Regions from separate parts of the Homo sapiens genome. Here all the other regions are linked to region 3. The links come from fine-mapping of genetic effects on gene expression. A gene starts in region 3. Each other region holds a variant in brackets. All regions are shown on one strand. Distances are between the middles of the regions. Region 1 overlaps TMEM175 (transmembrane protein 175). Region 2 overlaps GAK (cyclin G associated kinase). Region 3 holds the start of SLC26A1 (solute carrier family 26 member 1).

Region 1 (4,108 bases), 46 kb before region 3:
TTTGTTGCTGCCTCAGCTTCTGTTTTCCCCACGTCTTTGCCGTCCTGTCGTCTCACTCCCCGCCGTCTGTCCCCACCGTTCATTCCAGCCTCGGTTTCTGTTTTCCCCAGGTCCCTGCCCTCCCGTCGCCTCACGCCCACCACCCTGGCTGGCCTCTCTCCGTTTCATTTGCACCTCCCCGATCTCCCTGATTGCTAGTGAAGTGGAATGCCTTGTGTGTTTGTTTTTCCCGGCTGGAAACCAGTGAGCCTCTGTCCATTCTCTGGGGTGAACTCTCCTTGTTTTTGTGCGTCTCGCCTTGGTGTGAGCAGACTACAGCACATCCCTCTTCCTGCGGACCCTCTAGCTGGCCACATATTTCAGTCCCCTGATGCCCTTGGCCAAGTAAACAGCACCCCCTTTGGAGTAAAACCTGGGGGCTCTGGCTTGTCACCTCCCGCTGGTGCTGAAGGGCTCTCCCCATACCCTTCCTGAAGAGGTCTCCGCCCCTTAAATGGTGGAGAGCCCAGCCTGTCCTGCCCCCGGCTGCTCCTCTCCTCCTTCCCGGGTGCCACTCCCTCGGACCACCCCCACATTTCCAAGTAGCACAGAAATTACTTCTGTTTCTAACACGGCTCAATCCGAGGTACCTTTGAAGGCTGCAGCTCCAGCCTGACTCCTTCCATCCCCATAGCTCCCCTGCCCTGAGACAGCCTCCGGTGCTTCTGCTGTGTCCCAGGAAACAAGCCTGAAGCAAGCACTCACCATCCCTCAAGAATGTGCCCTGACCTACCTTCCTCACCACGGTGGCATCAGGGCCAGGTGGGCTCCCCCTTCTCCGTCACCCCCCACGGCAGCCCCCAATACTCTTAGGAGCTGCTTTCCCACATGCTGTGTGTCTCCTGGGATGCCAGACCTCCGTCACTCCTCTCCTAGGTCATAGCAGCCCTTCTGACTGGCGTCCTTGACACACTGCTGCCCTCTTCCCTGCTCCGGGGCACCTGGCTGCAGGTGGGGCTCAGCCAACATGGGGCTCTCTGGCCACATTCTATGTTTGGGGAACTTGTCTCAGTGTGCCCAGCCTCCACCTCGGGTGCAGGGTGAAATCCATAGTGCCTGGTTGGCACGAGGCTGCCCACTCGGGTGCAGGGTGAAATCCATAGTGCCTGGTTGGCACGAGGCTGCCCACTCGGGTGCAGGGTGAAATCCATAGTGCCTGGTTGGCACGAGGCTGCCCAGCACCATGCAGCAATGGCTCCTGCAGCCATACCTCAGTTCTGTCTCCGTGAGGCGCTGGGGTCTCTTCTGTCCAGAGTACTCTCCACCTGGCATCTTATTCATCTTCCCAGATGCATCTCTGATATTAAAAATGCCTGGGGAGTGCTGTGCTGAGCCACAGCTGTGGCGTGTGCCCAGTGTGCACCCAGCCCCGGCTCCCACAGGCGGACTGGAGTGCCTGCCCTGGTGCTAACTGGCTACATATGCAGGGCCTTGGTTTCCCCAAAGGTCACCAAGGGAGAGCGCGGCCCCTGTAGGAAACAGCCCCAGGCACGCGTGCACAGGCGCCGAGACCGAGGGAGAGCGCGGCCCCGTAGGAGACAGCCCCAGGCACGCGTGCACAGGCGCCGAGACCGAGGGAGAGCACGGCCCCTGTAGGAGACAGCCCCAGGCACGCGTGCACAGGCGCCGAGACCGAGGGAGAGCGCGGCCCCTGTAGGAGACAGCCCCAGGCACGCGTGCACGGGCGCCGAGACCGAGGGAGAGCGCGGCCCCTGTAGAGAACAGACAGCCCCAGGCATGCGTGCACGGGCGCCGAGACCGGGGGAGAGCGCAGCCCC[T/C]GTAGGAGACAGCCCCAGGCATACGTGCACAGGTGCCGAGACTGAGGGAGAGCGCGGCCCCTGTAGAGAACAGACAGCCCCAGGCACGTGTGCACGGGCCCCGAGAGCGAGAGCGGGGGAGAGCGCGGCCCTGTAGAGAACAGACAGCCCCAGGCACGTGTGCACGGGCCCTGTAGAGAACAGACAGCCCCAGGCACGCATGCACGGTCAAGGGCCCCGCAGGGTGCTGTGTTCCTCTTCCACGTTTAGGTCGGCCTTGGGGTCTGTGATCTCTGTGCCTTTCCTTGTCTCTCCCGTTTCCTGAGGAGAAACTGAGGCCCAGTCCACCCAGATCAGTGTTCACCAGTAACAGGGCCGGGAGTGGCATCTGTTGTTGGCCTCTCAGCCTGGAGGCCAGAAATTTGAGGGGCACCTGGGAGAGGACAGAGCAGCGTGGACCCTTCCCCTGCTCAGTGGCGGCCAAGCCCCCCCCCATACCAGTCCCTGTCCCTGCACCAGGGCTGAGGCTGCATGGCCGACCTCCAGGAGCGCCCCACAGGCACACTCAGACCTGCCTTTCCTCCCAGGCTCCTGTAACCGCCAGGCAGCGGCCCCGCCATGTCCCAGCCCCGGACCCCAGAGCAGGCACTGGATACACCGGGGGACTGCCCCCCAGGCAGGAGAGACGAGGACGCTGGGGAGGGGATCCAGTGCTCCCAACGCATGCTCAGCTTCAGTGACGCCCTGCTGTCCATCATCGCCACCGTCATGGTCTGTACGGGGCCCCTGCTTAGGCCTGCCCCACCCCGAGCCTCTCGAGGCACTGCCCAGCCCACCTCAGACCTGTCTAGGTCTTGCCAGCATCCTTGGGTCCCCCAGCTCCTCAGGCAGCTTAGGGGGGCCCAGCACTGCCCTCGAGTCCCCAGTACTGCCACACCCAATCCAACAAGCGTCTCTTGCTCTCCTGCTTCCTTCTGTCTCTTTGCCCCCTCAGATCCTGCCTGTGACCCACACGGAGATCTCCCCAGAACAGGTAACGGGGCAGGCTGTGCTCTGCGTGGTGTGGCCCTGCGAAGATATAGGGTCCCCGAGGCTCGACCTGGCACAGGGTGCTGACCCTGCACGCCTCGAAGCTTCTGAGGCTTAGGAGGCAGAGGCGGGAGGCGGGGGCCTCCTTGGAAAGGGAGGGAGCCAACAAGTCCTGCTCAGCCTGTGCTCACCCCGGCGGAGGTCCTGGCCTCCTGGGAGGGTGGGAGACTGGGCTCCTAGGGCTCTGTTTCCGAGTTCAGTGGACAAAGGCAGCACCCTGGAAGTGAGCCAGAGGACAGGTTGGAAGAGGAAGGTTCCGGGCCTGCCCCAAGGACAGAAGTTTCCTCTGCGGGAGGGCAGCTGCCCCAGCAGGCAGGCCCCTTACGTAGCTGCTCTGAGTAAACGCGGCCAGCGCCCCGTCTCAGCGGGGACACTCCCACCCCGGCTGCTCCTGCAGGCCTGGAGGTGAGCGGGAAAGGGTTTACAAGCAGAGTTTCCACCTTGACTGTTTCTGAGCTAAAGAGCCAAACAGCATCTTAGAAGGGGAATGACTGGAGGGCGTCTGGGGCCCACACCTGCCTGGCTCTGTGTCCTCATGACAGGGTCGTGCGGCCCAAGCTTCATGGGTGCGCAAGGCACAGCAGTGACCACGTAGCCCTTCCTGGGCCAGTACTGAGGTTGGGCCTCCAGTCCTGACTCGTGAGCTGAGCCTGGGGGACGCCGAGAAGTCATGGGAGCTGCTTAGAGTTCGGCTTTCTCAGCTGTGCGAAGGGGATGATGAGACTTTACATAGGGTTTTCATAAGTAGAAATGCGGGTGGAGCCTGGCCCAGTCTGCAGGGAGACCCTGGGCACCAGCAGGCAGCAAGCAGCACAGGCACTGGGACCCCAGAGCCGCTCCCGCCCTCCCTAGGGGGGCAGCTGCTCAGGAAAGCTGCGTCCCCACCGAGGCCCATGGGGTGGGCTTGGCCAAATGCAGTCGTGAGGTACTGGCCTTGGCTGCCCCTTTCAGAACGGGGTCGCTGAGGTACGGCCACATCCACCTGTGATGCCCGTGCCAGAGGGCGCATGACAATGAAGGGCCCGGGTGGTTGAAAATAAAAACCTGTGAACCTAAACCTGCTCCGACTTCTCTGCAGCCAGGGCACCTTTCTAGGACTGTGGTGTTTAGTGCCCTGTCTTTTCTCTGTTGTCCTAACTGGGTCACAGGGAGGGTCTGAGTCTCAGAAAGTCCTGGAGAGTCAAAAGCTCATTCAGAGAACACATTTATGTGAAGAGGGAAAG
Region 2 (4,091 bases), 93 kb before region 3:
CAGAAAATTAAAAACCACCCATAAATCAAAGAAAGATAATCCAGTTAATAATGGGGCTCACAGGCCGGGCGTGGTGGCTCACGCCTGTAATCCCAGCACTTTGGGAGGCCAAGGCGGGCGGATCACCTGAGGTCAGGAGTTCGAGACACGCCTGACCAACATGGTAAAACCTCGTCTCTACTAAAAAATACAAAAATTAGCCAGGCATGGTGGCGGGCGCCTGTAGTCCCAGCTACTCAGGAGGCTGAGGCAGGAGAATCGCTTGAACTTGGGAGGCGGAGGCTGCAGTGAACCGAGATTGCGCCGCTGCACTCCAGCCTGGGTGACAGGGCAAGACTCCGACTCAAAAAAAAAAAAGTATACAGAGACACAAAGAACTAGAAAGGGCCACACAATTGTGAAGCCCACATTACACCTTCTGGCGCAGCTCTGATAACAGGGCATGGGAGCTCGGGCCAAACAGGGAATCCAGCGAGTGCTGCTGAGAAGCCACGGACGCCAGAGGCTGCACGCGTGACAAGGCAGCAACGCAGTGACTCAGCCCCACAGTGCTCACGCCCCACACAACACCCATCTTAATGGCAGAGCCATGGCAAAACAGCTGCCAGCACCAGGCATCCATGTGGAACGAAAGGAGAAAGCCTCGCCCCCAGCTCACACAATCAAGGAAGCCTCAGCCCCAACATTTAGGCAAACCACAGATCTTTCGGAAGATGGCCCAGAGGAGCTCCTTCTGAGATAGGGAAGGAGCGGCTTCTTCAACAAGACAGACAGCACAGACGTGGCAGGATGGCCAGCACAGGCATCCCTCTGGAGAGGAAGAACAATGCCAGCACAGGGCTCCAAGAGGGCAGCACGCCAGCCACAGATGGAAGGTGCTCGGCACACACGCGGTCAGTACGGGCTCCCACAGGCAGCACAGGGCTCCGAGAGGGCAGCACACCAGCCACGGACGGAAGGTGCTCGGCATGCACGCGGTCAGTATGGGCTCACACAGGCAGCGAGAGGAAGGCAAGTCGAGGAAAGGCAGGCATTTTCCCAGAGGAAGCCCAAGTTCTGATAAGCCAGCCTCATCGACAGGAGAAAAAATGCAAACTAAGGCCATGGGCACCCAGGACAGGCTGAGGGAGCAGCACCCGCCATGCCCCAGGACAGCAAAGTGCAGAGCCGTGGCATCCAAGAGTGCAAGGGGACGCCCAGGGTTAGATGCAGACGCTCTCCAACCACAGCGCCCTGCAGACCCCAGTCCTAGAGAGGACGCCTGCTCCGCGGACCAGCAAGCTGAACAGGCTGTCCACGTGGTGCAGACAGGATGGCTCACCATAAACAAGGGAAAGAAACGGACACACATGCCACCCATGGCCGACCAGAGAAACCCAGTGAAGCCTAAGGCCACCACTGGCCCCCGAGGAGATGCGGGCCACATACAGGACCGGGGCCTCTGAACCACAGGGCTGAGCAAGAAAATCAGATGCAGAGCGTGGGGCGAGGCTCCCCTCACAGGACGCCCAGAGAAAAGATCAGCGACCCTGGCTCGGATGCAGAGCACACAGCGGGGAGATGCAGTGGCACACGGCCACTGAAGGCCCAGGAGTGCCCATCCCCTC[G/A]CGTGTGCCCGTTCCCATTCTACAGCCAACAGAGACGAAGCTGTGCGCACAGCAGGACGATGCACAGGGCAGGCGAGTGGGGCCACCTGTGCCCGTTCCCATTCTACAGCCAACAGAGACGAAGCTGTGCGCACAGCAGGACGACGCACGGGGCAGGCGAGTGGGGCCACGTGTGCTGCCTGCCCCTCCGCAAACAGCCGTCCAGACTCCCACGGCGGAGGCCACAGGTGAACACACGCGGGCTGCAGGGCTGGCCTGGGTTCCCGCCACGCCGCTGTGGAGCAGCAGCAAGGCCAGTGCTGTGAAGTGCAGGCCTGGCTCACAGACACGGATTCTTCACCAATTCAACCCTTCTGTTTCTGTTCTCCTTAAAATACACACTCAAGCCCCGCTACACGACCCATCACACTTCAAAAATGCGAACCAGGAGGGTCTCGGTGTCATGAGAAAATCCACCACTCAGAGACTCCTCAGGAAGAACCACCCAGACAGCAAACAGCACCTTCCACGGGCAGGACTGGCCCCTCATGGAGCCCTGCAGCCCCTTCCGTCAGAATGGGGCCTCAGGCGCATGGGTTTCTGGAAACCAGGGGTCTTGCTTGCAACCTTGAAGAAGCTTCCCTCAAAAGCAACCCTGTGTGCTGGGCAGAATGTACTTTTAGAAAAGTAAAATACAAGGAAAGAAGAAACAGAAGGAAGAGAGGGAGGGAGGAAAGGAAGGAGAAGGGGTGAAAGGGCCTGGGGCATGGCTCAGGAGCAGGCTCCACAGCGGTGGCCATGGGAGCGAAAGGGCCTGGGGCTCAGGAGCAGGCTCTATGGCGGTGCCCACAGGCTTCTGCCATGGGGCATCTGTCCAGTCGGCCACCTTACACCCTGGCATTCTAGGCCCTCTGAGTTCAGGGGACAAACGAAAAAGGCCACACTTACCCATTTTCAAAATCTACGTGAAGACACCTGTGCTATAAAGTAGGAGTGTACAGCCAAGTAGAGAAAAGGCAGCCCTAACCAGAGAAACACAGAGGGAAGCTGCCTGCCAGAGCCTTGGCCCTGGGTGGGCTGAGGCAGGCTGAGGCGGAATGAGCCTGTGCAGTTAAGAACAGCTCAGCATGGGTGCCCACGGCTTAGGCACCCCCACCCAGGGCACACAGGGAGAGCCACGGCCTTGGATCCCCCACCCAGGGCACACGGGGAGAGCCACGGCCTTGGATCCCCCACCCAGGGCACACGTGGAGAGCCACGGCCTTGGGCCTCCCACCCGGGGCACACGTGGAGAGCCACGGCCTTGGATCCCCCACCTAGGGCACACGGGGAGAGCTGGGGGGCTCTGAGGCCTCCTAGGCACCCACGAGCAGACGCTGGAGAGGAGGCGGGGCCCAGGTGGCTGCATGGGCAGACATGAGCTGATGCACGGGGTGCAGGGCCAGGTAGACACAAGGATACAGCTCCCACCTCAGGTCACACAAGGTCAATTCCAGATGAACGAAACCTCTGGACACAGGCCAGGTAGATTTCAGCAGCTGGAGGAGCAGCTGAGGCGGGTGCTGGGAGCAGGATCTGAAACACAGCTCCGTGCTCCACAAGAGACGCCACGGGGCTGGGGCCTCACTGGCCTCCTCGTCCCCTTGGCCTGGGCAGTGGCGGGGAGCCAAGGACAGCACAGGGCATCCTCCACAAGCCGTGGCCAGAGGCGCCGCTCCCGATTAGCGAGGTCTGAGAGAAGCCACACTTTGGGAAAACCAGGGAAGGCTGAGAACAGGAGGGCAAGAGACAAGGCTCGGTTCCTCCCACCTCACTGCGGATAATGGTGTCAAAACCACATAAAAAATGTCCTGGCCGGGCGTGGTGTCTCACGCCTGTAATCCCAGCACTGTGGGAGGCCAAGGCGGGAGGGTGACTTGAGGTCAGGAGTTCGAAACCAGCCTAGACAACATGGTGAAACCCTGTCTCTACTAAAAGTACAAAAATTAGCCCGGCGTGGTGGCATATGCCTGTAATCCCAGCTACTCGGGAGGCTGAGGTAGGAGAATCGCTGGAACCCAGGAGGCAGAGGCTGCATGAGCCGAGATCGTGCCACTGCACTCCAGCCTGGGCAACAGAGCAAGACTCCGCCTAAAAAAAAAAAAAAAACAGAAATGTCCTCACGTCCCCAGAGACATGGACAAAAGTATCTGGGAGTGATAAGGCTTTAAAACTTTGGCAGCCTGGGAGCGGTGGCTCACACCTGGAATCGACCCCTTTCAGAGGCTGAGGCGGGTGGATCACTCGAGCTCAGGAGTTCTGGACCAGCTTGGGCAACATGGTGAAACCCCATTTCTACTGAAAATACAAAAACTAGGCAGGCGTGGTGTGCGCCTGTGGTCCCAGCTACTCAGGAGGCTCAGGTGGGAGATCACCTGGGCCAAGTCGGCCGAGGCGGCAGTGAGCCCCGTCAGTGCCGCTGCACTCCAGCCTGGGCTGTAGAGTGACTGACTCAAAAAAAAAAAA
Region 3 (4,132 bases):
GGGTGCTGCTGTTGGCTCCGGGCTGCAGGCCGTCCTGGGAGGGGTCAAAGCCGGCCAGCTGGAGCTCCCGGTCCACCACCTGCCCCACCATGAGGCAAAGCAGGCTGAAGATGCCCACGGAGACATGCCGTGAGGTGCCCATGAGGAAGTAGATGAGGTTGGCGAAGAAGGACGTATAGAGGCTGTAGATGGGCTGCAGCCCGGCCAGCAATGAGTAGGCGATGGCCTGCGGCACCAGGATGATGCCGATGACCAGCCCAGACATGACGTCGCCTGCCAGGTACTCCCGCGGGCGGTACTGACGCAGCCAGCGCGTGGCGGGGAGCAGGTCCTGCACCAGCGCCCGGACGCACAGCACACTGCACGAGCAGCTGCACCACAGCCTGGCCTTCAGCATCTCACGCAGACCCCGGGGTGCTGGGCGCTGCCGTCGGACCGGCACCGGCCCTCTGCCCTGCTGCAGAGGCTCAGGGGACTCGTCCATCCTGTTGCGTCAGGTCCCGTGGCCGACCTGCGGCCGAGAAGAGGGCATGGTCACAGGAGCCCCCGGATCCAGGGCCAAACGACAAGGTCCCCGGCAGCAACGGGCCCCTTGGGGCGGACCCCTCGCCCACCCAGGGCCGGGGATTGGTGCTGGGCCTTCTCCTGGCAGCGCGGGCCCCAGCCCCCTGCCCGGTATGGATGGACGCTGGGCCCTGCTGGATCCAGAATCCATCGTGAGGTGAGATGGGATTACGACACCAAGCCCATGCCATGGGGTGTGCTGAGGCCAGCAGTGCTGAGGGGCGGCGTGGCGGCACCCTGTCCAGGCTCAGCTCCGGCCTATTGGCTCTGCGGTTCCTGGCTGAAAACCACCCTGTAGCCTCCTGAAGCTCACCTCCCCAACGGGGCAGGAACAGGCTGGGCTGCCACCACGCACATGTGCCTACCGTCAGAATGTCACAGTCACTGGACACAGGTGCAGGCAAGCCTGAGTCCAGCTGCTCCGTGTCCACCTCCCTGGCTCCCCAGGTTGGCAAACGGTCCTGCTGTCCACCCCATGCCCACACCAGAGCCCTCCCTCCCCCATCCAAACCATCGCCTGCTCTCCTGGAGACACCTCCACCCACCCCTCTGTCACCTGCCCTGTGGGTCCTGGGGCTGGCGGAAGTCTCAGGAAGAGGCCTCCTATGTCCCTGCCAAGCTTTGTGGGTACTGGGACCCCAAGTCTGCTGGGGGAGCAGCACTCAGACACTAGCCTAGCCCATCCGCCTGGACTTGGGACAGAATTCTGAGAATATGCCTGGACGGGGGCCCCATCAGGGCCAGCTGGGAGGGGAGGAGGGTGACTGGCGTCTGTCTCCCCTGCCCAGACAGTTCTGGGACGTGAGGCGCCCTTTTTCCCAGGCTGCACCAGCTCACTGTGGAACGGCCATGACACACTGTCCCGAGGCAGCACCGAGAGGGCCCAGCCCGCTGCACACAGTCACCCTGGGCCGGCAGAGCCGGAAGGGCACCTGACCTTTCCCTTGATCTCGGAAAACACCGTGGCGTTAGGGAGGCGGTGCTTAGAGGCCTGACTGGTCCCACGTGAGGCCTCGGGTCTGTCCTGTTTGCAGACTCCAATGTACTTTCACTTTAAACATTCTTCTCAGCGACGTTAGGCAAAGACTTTGCTCCCAGGACACCAGGTGCCCAGGACACCCTGGAGCCTGGGCTGAGCCTGCTGTTTGCACGCTGGCCCAGGGTGTGCGAGCTCCAGTCTCCTGGCGGGTGTGTTGGGGCAGTGAGCCCAGCCTGGTAGGTTGACACATGCAGGCTGGGCACAGCACCCCTGGGGCACAGAGCGGGGGTCCTGGCCCTCAGGCAACATTGCAAGAGTTGTGTCCCCTTCCCTGGAAGACCCCACCACACTGGGTCCCTGGATGCCCTGAAGCCCACCCCAAGCCCCTGGGGTCCAGGTGTGTGGAATGGGGACAGTAGGGCCACCTGCCTTGAGCCTGAGGGTGCCCCTAAGAAACCACGAGTCCAGGGCATTTCTGGCCTCGGCTCCCACGCCCCCCTCTGCTGCAGCTGAGATCTGGGCCCAGGATGGTTCTTACCTGAGGGAGTCCTCACAGGCGCGGAGGGCCCTGGGATGACGAGGGGCTGGCAAGACCACCGAGGACCGCAGGGCCCTCTGGCTCCCGCGAGCAGCGGGGAGAGTGGGGGTGGTGGCGCCAACCTGCAGGCAGTGGTCTGTGCCCTGGACTCTGTAGTTCAATTATTTACCTACAGATTGCTGAGTCATGGGTTTCTCCAGCCATGTTACCTGATCGGCTGATCCGGGAGTTGAACTGTAATCAGGGGCTTGTAGGAGTTAGAGCTGTGTGGGCCTCTGAGGAGCTCCCAGCCTCCCAGGAGCCGCTGCAGCTGTGGCTCTGCGGCCCTGCCGGGGGGGCTTAGGGACCAGCGGGAGGCGGGGGCTCAGGGGCTGAGCACAGGTAAACCTTCAGCTCTGGGGTCTGGGGTCGAGTGCAGCAGCCTTCAAACCCAGGCGGGGCTGAGGGAGGCTTGGTCTCCGTGTCCAGTCGCCGGACACCCTCCTGGTCCTGCAAGGAGCCAGCCTGGTCCAAGCTGGAGCAGGGCAGAGGCTGACAGCCGGCTCAGCCCAAGGCTGCCGGTGCGTGCATATGCGTGTGTGCTCGCGTAAGCCCTGTGTGTGGTGCTCACCGCCCAGGGCGAGGACTGCCGGGGTCAAGGTGCCGTGACTGGCCAGGAGTCCTGGTCTGACTGGACCCAGCACCGACCCACAGCGCCTGGTCACCCTCACGGCTCCTCTGCCCTCCCCTCTACCACAGACCAGGACCGGCAGTGCCTGCCTCATAGGGCTGGGGTGAAGATAAATGATTTTTTTAAGTGAACTAAATTAGGCCCACACGTGAAAATAAGGGTAAGCTGCTTTTTAAAAGGAATTATTAGCCAGGCACGATGGTTCACTCCTGTAATTCCAACACTTTGGGAGGCCTAGACAGGAGGATCGCTTAAGGCCAGCAGTTCAAGACCAGCCTGGTCAACATAGTGAGACGCCCCCCACCTTTTCTTTTTTTTTTTTTGAGGCGGAGTCTTGCTCTGTCACCCAGGCCGGAATGCAGTGGTGTGATCTCGGCTCACTGGAAGCTCTGCCTCCTGGGTTCACGCCATTCTCCTGCCTCAGCCTCCTGAGTAGCTGGGACTACAGGCGCCCGCCACCGCGCCCGGCTAATTTTTTTTTTTTTGAGACGGAGTTTCGCTCTGTTGCCCAGGCTGGAGTACAGTGGCATGATCTCGGCTCACTGCAAGCTCTGTCTCCCGGGTTCAAGTGATTCTCCTGCCTCAGCCTCCCGAGTAGCTGGGACTACAGGCACCCGCCACCACGCCCGGCTAATTTTTTGTATTTTTAGTAGAGACGGGGTTTCACCATGTTAGCCAGGATGGTCTTGATCTCCTGACCTCGTGATCCACCCACCTCGGCCTCCCAAAGTGCTGGGATTACAGGCTTGAGCCACTGCACCCGGCCGCCCCCTGCCCCCCAACCTTTAAAAAATTAAAAGTAAAAAATTAGCTGGGTGTGGTGGTGTGTGCCTGTATCCCAGCTACTCAAGCGGCTCAGGTGGGAGCATGGCTTGAGCCCAGGAGTTTGAGGCTGCCATGAGGTATGATTAGGCCACTGCACCCTATCCTAGGCCACAGAGCAAGAGCCCGTCTCAAAAACAAACGCTGTCATTGGCCCAGCACTTTGGGAAGCTAAGGTAGGAGGATTGCTTGAGCCCTGGAGGTCCAGGCTGCAGTGAGGTATGTTTGTAGCGCTTCACTCCAGCCTACAAGTCTTTTTTTTTTTTTTTTGAGATGGAGTCTCGCTCTGTTGCCCAGGCTGGAGTGCAGTGGCACAATCTCGGCTCACTGCAGCCTCTGCCTCCCGGGTTCAAGCGATTCTCCTGCCTCAGCCGCCTGAGTAGTTGGGACTACAGGCGTGTGCCACCACGCCCGGCTAATTTTTGTATTTTTAGTAGAGACAGGGTTTCACTATGTTGGTCAGGCTAGTCTTGAACTCCTGACCTTGTGATCCACCCGCCTCGGCCTCCCAAAGTGCTGGGATTACAGGCGTGAGCCACCGTGCCCGGCCAGTTCTGTC

The links. PIP is the estimated chance that this variant, and not a neighbour inherited with it, causes the effect.
Region 1: its variant is the best candidate, but not a certain one, in a credible set for the expression of SLC26A1 in pancreas (GTEx, PIP 0.52).
Region 2: its variant is the best candidate, but not a certain one, in a credible set for the expression of SLC26A1 in esophagus muscle (GTEx, PIP 0.75).

What each region holds. Positions count from the first base shown.
Region 1 is chr4:945,326-949,433 of GRCh38, forward strand. TMEM175 (transmembrane protein 175) reads left to right here. Exons shown (of 11, transcript NM_032326.4): 2 at 2,384-2,567; 3 at 2,791-2,829. The coding sequence starts at 2,415. Among named protein-coding and RNA genes, the nearest start is that of TMEM175, 15 kb to the left of the region's middle. RefSeq lists an enhancer at 1-404. The variant T/C (reference allele first, on the strand shown) is at 1,818.
Region 2 is chr4:898,518-902,608 of GRCh38, forward strand. The region is part of intron 5 of GAK (cyclin G associated kinase); the gene reads right to left. Among named protein-coding and RNA genes, the nearest start is that of GAK, 32 kb to the right of the region's middle. The variant G/A (reference allele first, on the strand shown) is at 1,608.
Region 3 is chr4:991,220-995,351 of GRCh38, forward strand. It overlaps SLC26A1 (solute carrier family 26 member 1), which reads right to left and starts at 2,185. Exons shown (of 3, transcript NM_022042.4): 1 at 2,082-2,185; 2 at 1-511. The coding sequence starts at 484. The region is part of intron 2 of IDUA (alpha-L-iduronidase); the gene reads left to right. RefSeq lists enhancers at 1,522-2,333, 2,334-3,145.